2 separate regions of the Homo sapiens genome follow, and region 2 is linked to region 1. The links come from fine-mapping of genetic effects on gene expression. Tissue or cell type: putamen. Region 1 holds a variant in brackets; the other region holds the start of a gene. All regions are shown on one strand. Distances are from middle to middle.

Region 1 (5,427 bases):
AAAAAAAAAAAAAAAAAAAAAAAAAGTCTCAGTCTTCAGGCAGTTGGCCAGGACCAAAACCTCTCGAACTTTTTTTTTTTAATTATTATTATACTTTAAGTTTTAGGGTACATGTGCACAATGTGCAGGTTTGTTACATATGTATACATGTGCCATGCTGGTGTGCTGCACCCATTAACTCGTCATTTAGCATTAGGTATATCTCCTAATGCTATCCCTCCCCCCTCCCCGCTAGAACTTTTTTTAATGCTGCAAATAACATGATGTTTTAATATATGTACACATTGTGGAATGGCTAAATCAAGCTAATTAACATATGCATTATTTCACATACTTATTTTTTTGTGGTGTGAGAAAACTTAAAATCTATTATTTTAGTAAGTTTCAAGCATATAACACATTGTTATGAATGAGAGTCACCCTGTTGTACAACAGATCTCTAGGATGACTTTCAAGTCACCCCTGATTCATGCTTCCTCTCACACCCCATGTTTAATTTCTTGGCGCTACCTTCAAAAAAGATCCCAGTTCCTGACCCTTCTCAACTCATCTATTAGCACCACCCTCTTCCAGAACCACTATCCTTTCTTGCCCAGGCAAGGACACCAGCTTTCTCATCTCCTGCTTCCGCCCCTGCAGGCCATTCTCCTCACAGCAACCAGCACTGTTTTCACTGAACATTTTTGCGCATAGCTAATAATTACGTGGTTTAAAAAAACAACAACGCTTTTTAAGTTCCCATAGCCCTGACCCACATCTGTCTATAACCCTCATCCCTATAGGCAATCACTGTTAATTTTTGTTGTTCACTGGAGAAGTCTTTGTAAACATTAATTGGAACAAGCCGGTGCTTGTTTGTAGCCCTGCAATGGCTTTGTTACATTTGGAAGTAAATTCCAAATGCTTACCATGGCCTGTAAGACTTTATGTAAACTGGCCCTGTCTACAGCTCCGTCTCTAAATAATCCTGCCCTTCTTTCCCTCCCTTGCTCTGTTTCAGCCACTCTGGCCACCTTGACCATCCTTGGACAGCCAGGCCCACTCCCACTTTGGGGTCTTTTACTGGCCGTTCTTCAGCATCTTTAGATGGCTCATTTCCTGACCTTCCTTAACTGCATTCAGGCCTCTGATCAAATGTCATCCCCTCAAAGCGGCCTTCCCTGGCCACCTGTCACTCTCTGTGACCTCTATCACTGTCAATTCCTGTAACCTGACTTTTTTTTTTTTTTTTGAGACAGAGTCTCGCTCTGTTGCCCAGGCTGGAGTGCAGTGGTGCGATCTTGGCTCACTGCAAGCTCCGCCTCCCAGGTTCATGTCATTCTCCTGCCTCAGCCTCCGGAGTAGCTGGGACTACAGGCGCCCGCCACCACGCTTGGCTAATTTTTTGTATTTTTAGTAGAGACGGGGTTTCACCATGTTAGCCAGGATGGTCTCGATCTCCTGACCTTATGATCTGCCCGCCTCGGCCTCCCAAAGTGCTGGGATTACAGGCGTGAGCCACTGCGCCCGGCACCTGACTTTATTTTTAATTGAAAAATAAAAATTGTATATATTTATGGTGTACAACATGTTTTGTATATTTATACATTGTACAATGGCTAAATCAAGCTAATTAACATATGCATTATTTCACATATTTATCATTTTTGTGGTGAGGACACTGAAAATTTATCCTCTTAGCAATTTTCAAGTATACATTGTTACTAACTATAGTTACCATGTTGTGGACTGGATCTCTTGAATTTATTCCTCCTGTCTAAATGAAATTTTGTATCCTTTGCAATGTCTTCCCAATCCTCACCCCCGATTTTCTTTTCTTCCAAGCATCCTTTATCTGATGTCATCTGCCCCACTAGAATATCTGCTCCCAAAGGGCAGGTGCTTTTCCTATTCATTACAGGATCTCCAGCCTACAGCTGTGCCTGGCAGATGACTAGAGTTCCATAATTCATTCAACATATAAATGAAAGAAATGAACAAAAAGTGAAAAAGAGATGAACAGGGCCAGGCGCAGTGGCTCACACCTGTAGTCCCAGCACTTTGGGAAGCTGAGGTGGAAGGATTGATTGAGGCCAGCCTCGGCAACATGGTGAAACTCTGTCTCTACAAGAAATACAAAAATTAGCCGGGTGTGGTGGCACATGCCTGTAGTCTCAGCTACTCGGGAGGCTGAGACAGGAGAATTGCTTGAACCTGGGAAGCTGAGGCTGCAGTGAGCTATGATCATGCCACTGTACTCCAGCCTGGGTGACAGAGGGAGACCCTGTCTCAAAAACAAAAAATAAAGACATGAACAGATCATTTGGCAATGGCTCTCAAAATTCCCAATGTGCATACCCTTTGACCCAGCAATTCTACTTGCACTTCAAATGAGATAGTCTACTGACAATACTAACATATACATGCAGCCACGTGTACCAGGATATTAACTGTAGCATAATCTCAGCACTTTGGGAGGCTGAGGCAGGAGGACTGCTTGAGCCAGGAGTTTGAGACAGCCTGGGCAACATAGTGAAACCCCGTCTCTACAAAAAATAGAAAATTAGCTGGGTGTGGTAGCACATGCCTGTGGTCCCAGCTACTCCTCAGGCTGAGGTGGGAGGATTGCTTAAGCCCAGGAGGTTGAGGCTGCAGTGAGCCACAACTGTATTACATGACTCCAGCCTGGGCGAGACAGCAAGAACATGTCTGAAAAAGAAAAAATTAGAAAACAGAAACATACACACAAACCCCTGCAGTAAATGTTTGTAAGAGCAGAAGTTCAGCAACAGTCTAAATGCTCATCAACAGAGAAAGTGTTAAAGTATGATATATCTCCAGAACAGCATACCATGCCACTAATACAAAAGGCAGCTCACTGGGTGCCTGACTGTACTGCTGACTCATCACCAGGCTGGCTCCCCGGTGCCAGGGAAAAAGTGTAGGCTTGCTCTGGAGTGAGACAGGCTTGGGTTTGAATCCAGGCCCGGGTTTGAATCCAGGCCCTGCTGCTTCCTGCCT[A/T]TGGGGACTTCGGTAAGGCCCTTCTCTCTTCCAGGCTCATTTGTCTACATCTGTTTTTTTTTTTTTTTTTTTTTTTTTTTGAGACAGAGCCTTACTCTGTCACCCAGGCTGGAGTGCAGTGGTGCGATATCAGCTCACTGCAACCTCCACCTCCTGGGTTCAAGTGATTCTCGTGCCTCGGCCTCCCGAGCAGCTGGCATTACAGGCGCATGCCACCACACCCGGCTAATTTTTGTACTTTTAGTAGAGATGGGGTTTCGCTATGTTGGCCAGGCTGGTCTTGAACTCCTGACCTCAGGTGATCTGCCTGCCTCGGCCTCCCAAAGTGCTGAGATTACAAGCGTGAGTCACTGCGCGGACCAACATCTGTTAAACAAATTAGGGGAGAAGATTATAGTGATGTATATAAAGCAGAGAGCACACAGCCTGGTACACAGTGGGTCCAAGGTCAATGCCAGGCCTCCTCTTTCCCTCTTTTAAGAAAATTCTACCTCTGAGGGTTGCCCTGACGTGAAACTGGCAATCGTGAGTGATCTGGGGTTGAGAAATTCAGATATGGCCTGAGCTGAAGAAGTAAAATTGGACACTGATAGACATAATACAGAGATGGCCTGTCATGTGTATCTTTATCAAACACCCAGAATCTTTCCCCAGAATCCATCAACAGTGGACTCAAGTCATTCTGGGTGACTGGTGTTTCTACCTGTGGCAGCCTGGAGAGGTGGCTCCACCTGGTACTGGTACTGGGACAATGACAGTAGGGATGAGGCCTGGAGGGGAGAGGGCTGCTCAGAATCTACAACTATCAGCATGGTAGACCACAAAATAATACACAGAGACAACACACAGTACCATTAGGCAACAGGCACTGTTCTATGCACTCTCACCCATTTAATGCTGGCGGCAATGTTGTAAGTAAGGTTATACCACACCCAATTCACAAACAGGGACGTAGAAGTAGAGAGTATTAAGTCACTTGGTCAAGCTCAGCCGCTATTTATATGAACTCAACACATGCTCTTAACTCCAATGCTTTATTATAACAGCAGCTCCAGAAGGAAACCGGGAACCAGTGCTTTAGGAAAGGAAAATGGGAACCAGAGGTGGAAACTTACTTTTATTGTATACAGCCAGAGAGGTTTGAATTGTGTATGTACATGTAATACCTGTTCAAATATAATTTTAAAAAACTTTTTTTTAGACCAGCCACGGTGGCTCACGCCTGTCATCCTAGCACTTTAGGAGGCCGAGGCGGGCGGATCACTTGAGGTCAGGAGTTCGAGACCAGCCTGGCCAACATGGCAAAACCCAGTCTCTACTAAAAATACAAAAAATTAGCCAGGCGTGGTGGACGCCTGTAATCCCAGCTATTTGGGAGGCTGAGGCAGGAGAATCGCTTGAATTTCAGGAGGTGGAGACGGCAGTGATCCGAGATCTCGCCACTGCACGCCAGCCTGGGTGACAGGGCGAGACTCCGTCTCTAAATAAATAAATAAAATAAAAATAAATAAAATTTCAAATAAAAAGCTAGAACCTTCCCATCCACCCACTCTGCCCACTGGGGAACTGCCGACCCTTCCGAATGCGCATGCGCTCTCCAGGCCGCGCCCGTCGCCCAATGTTCCTCTTTGGCGCGCGCAAGACTCCGCCCACGTGTGTTTAAATTTTCGACCCTGGAGCGGATTCCCTTCTCCAACGCGGCCTTCGAGGGTTTTAAACATAGTTCTGTCTCAGACTATTCTGCATCTCCCAGGCCTTAAGGATAAAACTGACACTGGAGACCCTTCAGGGTCTGACCTGCCCATTCTGCTGCCTCACCTCCCACCCAGGTGGACCCTGAATCCAAGCCAGTCTAGACCTCTTCCCCCGGGGTCTTCGCCGCCTTTGCTTAGCTGTTCCCTGGAGTACCCTCGCCTGCCTGTCCTTCAAGGTCCAACCGGACCCGCGCCCTTTCCTAAGTGATTTGAGGCCCTGGCAGTCTCTCCACAGGCCGGGGTGTCTTCCAGGGCGCACGCCAAGTCTGATTCATTCATGTGTTCTTGGCACTCAGCCCAGAACAGTGAAATTCCTCCCTGTCGTCCCACCCCACTGCATCCCGCCAACATCACCGAAGAGGCACAACTCGAACCCCAGATCCGGGCCGCTCTCCCTCCTGCCGGCTCCTCGGCGTATCCATTTCCCTACTCATCTCCCCACCCTCAACCCCCCAACCGCGCGCACGCGCATTGAGTCAGAGCCGCGGCGTCCTCCCGCCTCCCGCTCCGGAACCCGCATGCGTGCTGAAGCCGACCGCCTCCATCCACGCACGCTCAGCCCGGCGAGCGCATTCAGTTCTCGAGCTCCAGCCCTCAGCGCATGCGCAGGACGAGTCGCCTGAGGGAACTGATCTCAGCTCGGGCCCGCGTTACATCCTCCTCCTCTTCTTCC
Region 2 (5,427 bases), 970 kb before region 1:
TGAGACCCTGTCTCAAAACAAAACAAAACAAAAAAACGGAAACTGGGAGGTGAGAACAGGACTGGGGAGGGAGGGGCAGAGTCGTGGTGGGGAAGTGACAGCTCACTGCCATTTGGTCCTTTTTGAATTTTGGAACTTGTGAACACCTTACCTTTTCAAAACACACACACAATTCATTCACTCTGCTAACAGGTTTTCCAGGCCCTGCCCTGGTGTTGAACAACTAAGATTCCTGCCCTTGGGGAGCCACAGACTCGTCCATCCATCCAGGAGACAGTCAACAAGACAAGGAAAATACAGCCAATGGTATGTATTTGCTATGGAGAAAAATAAAACTGGTGAGGGAATGAGGGAGATGGAGCATAGGAAGTGGAAGCTGTTGTTTAAATCTGGTGGCCAAGGGAGGCCCTCCAAGGAATGACGTTTGGGGCTAAGACTTGAGTGAGGGGAGGGAATGAACCATGTGGACATCTGGGGGAAGAGTATTCTAGGCAGAGGGAACAGCAAGTGCCAAGGCCCAGAGGTGGGTCGGAACAGCTGTTGGAGGCCAGTGTAGCTGGAGCAGGATGAGCTGGGGGAGAGTGGGAGGATGGGGAGAGGGGAAGGGTGGCAAGGAGATGGCTCAGGATCTTATGAGCCACTGTAGGGACATAGGCTTTTACTCAGAGGGAGATGGGAGCCATGGAGGGTTCTGGGCAGGGGAGGGATAATCTGACTTCATTTTTTATTTTTTTTCGAGATGGAGTCTCGCTCTGTCGCCCAGGCTGGAGTGTAGTGATGCCATCTGGGCTCACTGCAACCTCCGCCTCCCAGGTTCAAGCGATTCTCCTGCCTCAGCCTCCTGAGTAGCTGGAATTACAGGCATGTGCCACCAGGCCCAGCTAATTTTTATATTTTTAAAATAGAGACAGGGTTTCACCACGTTGGTCAGGTACCATGTTGGCCAACTCCTGACCTCAGGTACTCTATCTGCCTCGGCCTCCCAAAGTGCTGGAATTACAGGCATGAGCCACCATGCCCAGGCCAGGTTTTAATTTAATTTAATTTGTTATTATTATTACTGTTTAGAGACAGGGTCTCACTGTGTTGCCCAGGCTGGAGTACAGTGGTGCCATCTTGGCTTACTATAGCCTCGACCTCCTGGGCTCAAGCGATCCTCCCGCCTCAGCCTTCTGATGACTTAGGTGTTAACAGGATCCCTGTGGCTGCATGTGGGGGAAAGACAGGTCCTTGTGGAGGTGCAGCAAGGACCCAGGCAGGGAGTCCCATGAGGAGGTGACTGCATGGTCCGGGCCTTCAGTGATGGTGGCTGGACCAGAGTGGGAACTTTTTTTTTTTTTTGAGACAGAGTCTTGCACTGTCACCCAGGCTGGAGTGCAGTCGCATGATCTTGGCTCACTGCAGCCTCCACCTCCCGGATTCAAGCGATTCTCATGCCTCAGCCTCCTGAGTAGCTGGGATTACAGGCGCATGCCACCACACCCAGCTAAGTTTTGTATTTTTTGTAGAGACGGGTTTTCACCATGTTGCCCAGGCTGGTCTCGAACTCCTGGGCTCAAGTGATCTGCCTGCCTTGGCCTCTCAGAGTGCTGGGATTACAGGCATAAGCCACCTTGCCCAGCCACCATTTTTTTTTTTTTTTTTTGAGGTTGAGTCTCTCTGTGTCGCCCAGGCTGGAGTACAGTGGCGCAATCTCGGCTCACTGCAACCTCTGCCTCTGGGGTTCAATCGGTTCTCGTGACCTCAGGTGATCCACTTACCTCAGCCTCCCAGAGTGCTGGGAAATACAGGTGTAGGCCACCGCGCCCGGCCCTACATCTTTACTTCTTTTGGTCGTGGGGGCTTTTGGAGAGGTACAGGGAACCAGGAGACGGAGGACAGAGAGGACCCAGGGGACCGGGCCTGGCCTGTTTGAGCTGAGACCTGAAGAGCATGGGGAAGTGTTTGAAGGAGGTGAACAAAAGGCTTTATTAGAAAACCAGAAAGGAGGCTGGGCGCGGTGGTGCATACCTGTAGTCCAAGCATTTTGGGAGGCTGAGGCGGGAGGATCGCTTGAGCCCAGGAGTTTAAGACCAGCCTGGGCAATGAGTGAGACCCTATCGCTAAAAAAAAAATTTAAAAATTTACCCAGGTGTGGTGGCATGTGCCTGTAGTCTCAGCTACTCAGGAGACTGAGGTGGGAGGATTGCTTGAGCCCAGGAGGTTGAGGCTGCAGTGAGCTATGATGGCACCACTGCATTCCAGCCTGGGGCCAGAGCAAGACCCTGTCTTAAAAAAAAAAAAAAAAAAAGAAAAAGAAAAGAAAAGAAAGAAAAAGAAAAAAAAATACAAGCAGTGAGTGGTCAGGCTGTGGCTGTGGCACAGCACTTGGCTTTCTCCTGGGGGCACTGGGGAGCCATGGCAGATTCTGACCAGGGGTCAGGGTTGGGTTTCCAAGGACGCCTCTGGGTGTGGTGCGGGCAGGGAGACCAGCTGTGCAGCAAGACACCAGGTGGCCTGGGTTAGGAGGTGGGTCAAAGAGGGAGGGGTGAAGGTTACCAATCATAGATTTAGGAGGCAATTTTCTTGGAAGGAAAGGGTGGGGTGCATGCTGGCTTGCTGGCGCCACTATCAGCCACTGTCCCAAGGTTTTCTTGTGCGTAAACTCATGGAGCGTTCACCACCACCCACTAGGTATCCTCATTGCACAGCTGGGGAAACTGAGGCTGAGAGAGACACACTCGCTGGCCCCAGATCTCACACAGCAGGTTATAGGAGCCAGCATTCAAACTCCTGGAGTCTGACTCCAGAGCTTGGACATTTTCACGCCCCTGACTCCTTAAAGCTGGAGAAGCTGAGGCTCCCAGTTGGGGTGAAGTTCCAGGTTCAAGACCACACAGCCGGGAACTAGAAAGGAAGGATTGAACCCACACCTTACCATGGGACACGGCCCTGCCCATCCCCTCTCCTCCCAGCAGCGTGAGGGCTCGACCTCCGGGGAGTCCCCGTTCTGGGTTGGGCGCCACTCCTCCCTCCCTATCCGCTTCGCGCCCGGAGCTCTCTCCGGACTTTAACCCTGGGCCGCCACTGGTGGCGACGCTGCCGATAAGGGGAGGTGGTTGGTGCAGAGGCCAGCAGGGCAAAATTCCCCTACTCCCGGTGCCAGGGGAGTTACCCAGGTCAGGGGCGGGGGCGGGGGAGGGCAGGGGCAGAGGAGCGGGCGGAGGGGGAGGTGGAGGCATCTGCAGCTGGACAGAGAAGTGGTGCTTTGTTTCTCTGTGCCTCAGTTTCCCTCTTGGTAAAATAGGCATGGTTCCTCCTATGGATGTAAGAAGGACCTAGGAACCTTTGCAAGGGCAGAGGAGTCCGCCCCTCTGGTCTGACTGGGAGACAAGGTGTTCCCCAATCTGATGGTGGGGACAAGGTGGCCCAACACAGTGGGAAAAATAAGGAAACTAAGGAGCTCTCACCAAATCCCATGAGGGAGACAGGACTGTCCAAATCCAATGAAGAAGATAAGAAGCTCCAGTCCTGTGCAGCAAGAACGAGTGTCCAGTCTATATTTCCAGTCTGCCAGGGGAGGTAAGGAGCAACATTCTGATGTGTAAGACAATGTATTTATTTTTGTGAGTCAGAGTCTCGCTCTGTCGCCCAGGCTGGAGTGCAGTGGTGTGATCTTGGCTCACTGCAACCTGTGCCTCCTGGGTTCAAGCGATTCTCCTGCCTCAGCCTCCTGAGTAGCTGGGATTACAGACGCACACCACCACGCCTGGCTAATTTGTTATTTTTAGTAGAGACCGGGTTTCACCGTGTTGGCCAGGTTTGTCTTGAATTTCTGACCTCAGGTGATCCTCCTGCCTCGGCCTCCCAAAGTGCTTGGATTACAGGCGGGAGCCACTGCACCTGGCCAGGAGTGATACTTTGATGTGTGAGACAATGCAGTTCTAATTTGATGGGGGAGATGGGTAGTCCTAGTCTGATGGGGGTGTTGAAGGGCTCCCATGCCTTCTGGGAGAGCTGATGAGCTTCCAAATGAATGATAGAAATGGGGAGCCCCTCAAACTGGTGGGGAGACAAAGAGCCTGCTAGTCTGATGAGGGAGGTAAGAATCTTCCTGTCTGAAGTGGGAGCCAGGGTGCTCCCGTCTGAGATTCCAAGGTGAGGAAAGAGACGAAGAACATACTCACTGCAGCTCAGCCAGCTCCTTCCTGAGCCTGGGAGTCAAATGGCCCCAGGATGCCTGGCCAGGGAGCCAGGACCAAAAGACAGAGACGATTTGCTCTCCTGACCCAGGGGCAGTTCTGCCCAGCTCTGGGCCTGATCTACTTTTGGCAAAAAAAGACCTGGCTGGTGGTGTACGGGCACCACCTAGCGGTTGCCATGGGCACGCCTTCCATCCGGAGCTTGGGGAGAGCAGCTCCTTGGAAGACCAGAGAAGGGCTCCTTGGACTCTCTCCCTGGGACCTGGGTCCAAGTACCAAACTACCCCTGAAACTGGATTCTGTGCATCATTCCATTCACCCTGCATGTGGCAGCTGGGGGAGTCTCTTGGAAGTACAAGCCTACCTCTGTCTGTCCCTTGCTCACAACTCTGCAGTGGCTCCCTGGTGCCCTGGGAGGAAGTCCACACCCGGCCACAAGGCTGGCTTCTTCTGAACAACCCTATGCTTCAGTTGAACAATAAGTAGTTTCTCAAAGGTGTCATATGCAAAACTTACCTTCAGGCCTTCGCACAGGCTGTTCCCTCTGCCAGGAACACCCTTCCCTGCCTCTTCCCCAGCATCTCTCCTACTCCTCCTTCAGGTCTTGGAGTAGATGTCTCCGCCCTCGTGAGCCCCCTGGTCAGGGTCATGGTCTGGTGGGGCTGTCGTGGTCACTGCTGTGTTCCCCTGGGGCCTGACACTGACAATGCACTCCAGGGAATGTTTATGGAATGAATGAGTGAATGAATGAATGAATGAATGAATGCCAAGCTAAAGAGTTTGCCAGGGCAGCTGTAGGAGAGTTTAATCAGGGCCAGGACACGATCGGATTTAGAAGCCCCTAGGCTCCCCCCAGCTTTTTTTTTTTTTGAGAGAGAGGGATGGAATCTGACTTCGTCGCCAGTGCAGTGGCGTGATCTTGGCTCACTGCAATCTCTACCTCCCAAGTTCAGGCAATTCTCGTGCCTCAGCCTGCCAGGTAGCTAGGATTATGGGTGCACGCCACCACGCCTGGCTAATTTTTGTATTTTAATAGAGACAGGGTTTCACCATGTTGGCCAGGCTGGTCTTGAACTCCTGACCTCAGATGATCCGCCCGCCTCGGCCTCCCAGAGTGCTGGGAATACAGGCATGAGCCACTGCGCCTTGCTGGAGCCCCTAGGTTTCCTCTCAACCCTAGGCTTTTGCACATACTCTTCCCTCTCCCTGCACTATTTACACCTAGTAACTCCCACTCATCCTCTAG

What was found. PIP is the estimated chance that this variant, and not a neighbour inherited with it, causes the effect.
Region 2: it holds the start of CEACAM16-AS1, and the variant in region 1 is fine-mapped to the expression of CEACAM16-AS1 in putamen (GTEx, PIP 0.96).

Annotation. Positions count from the first base shown.
Region 1 is chr19:43,754,861-43,760,287 of GRCh38, reverse strand. SMG9 (SMG9 nonsense mediated mRNA decay factor) reads left to right here and starts at 5,326. Exons shown (of 14, transcript NM_019108.4): 1 at 5,326-5,427. The variant A/T (reference allele first, on the strand shown) is at 3,001.
Region 2 is chr19:44,722,971-44,728,397 of GRCh38, reverse strand. It overlaps CEACAM16-AS1 (CEACAM16, CEACAM19 and PVR antisense RNA 1), which reads left to right and starts at 3,215. Exons shown (of 2, transcript NR_186815.1): 1 at 3,215-3,561.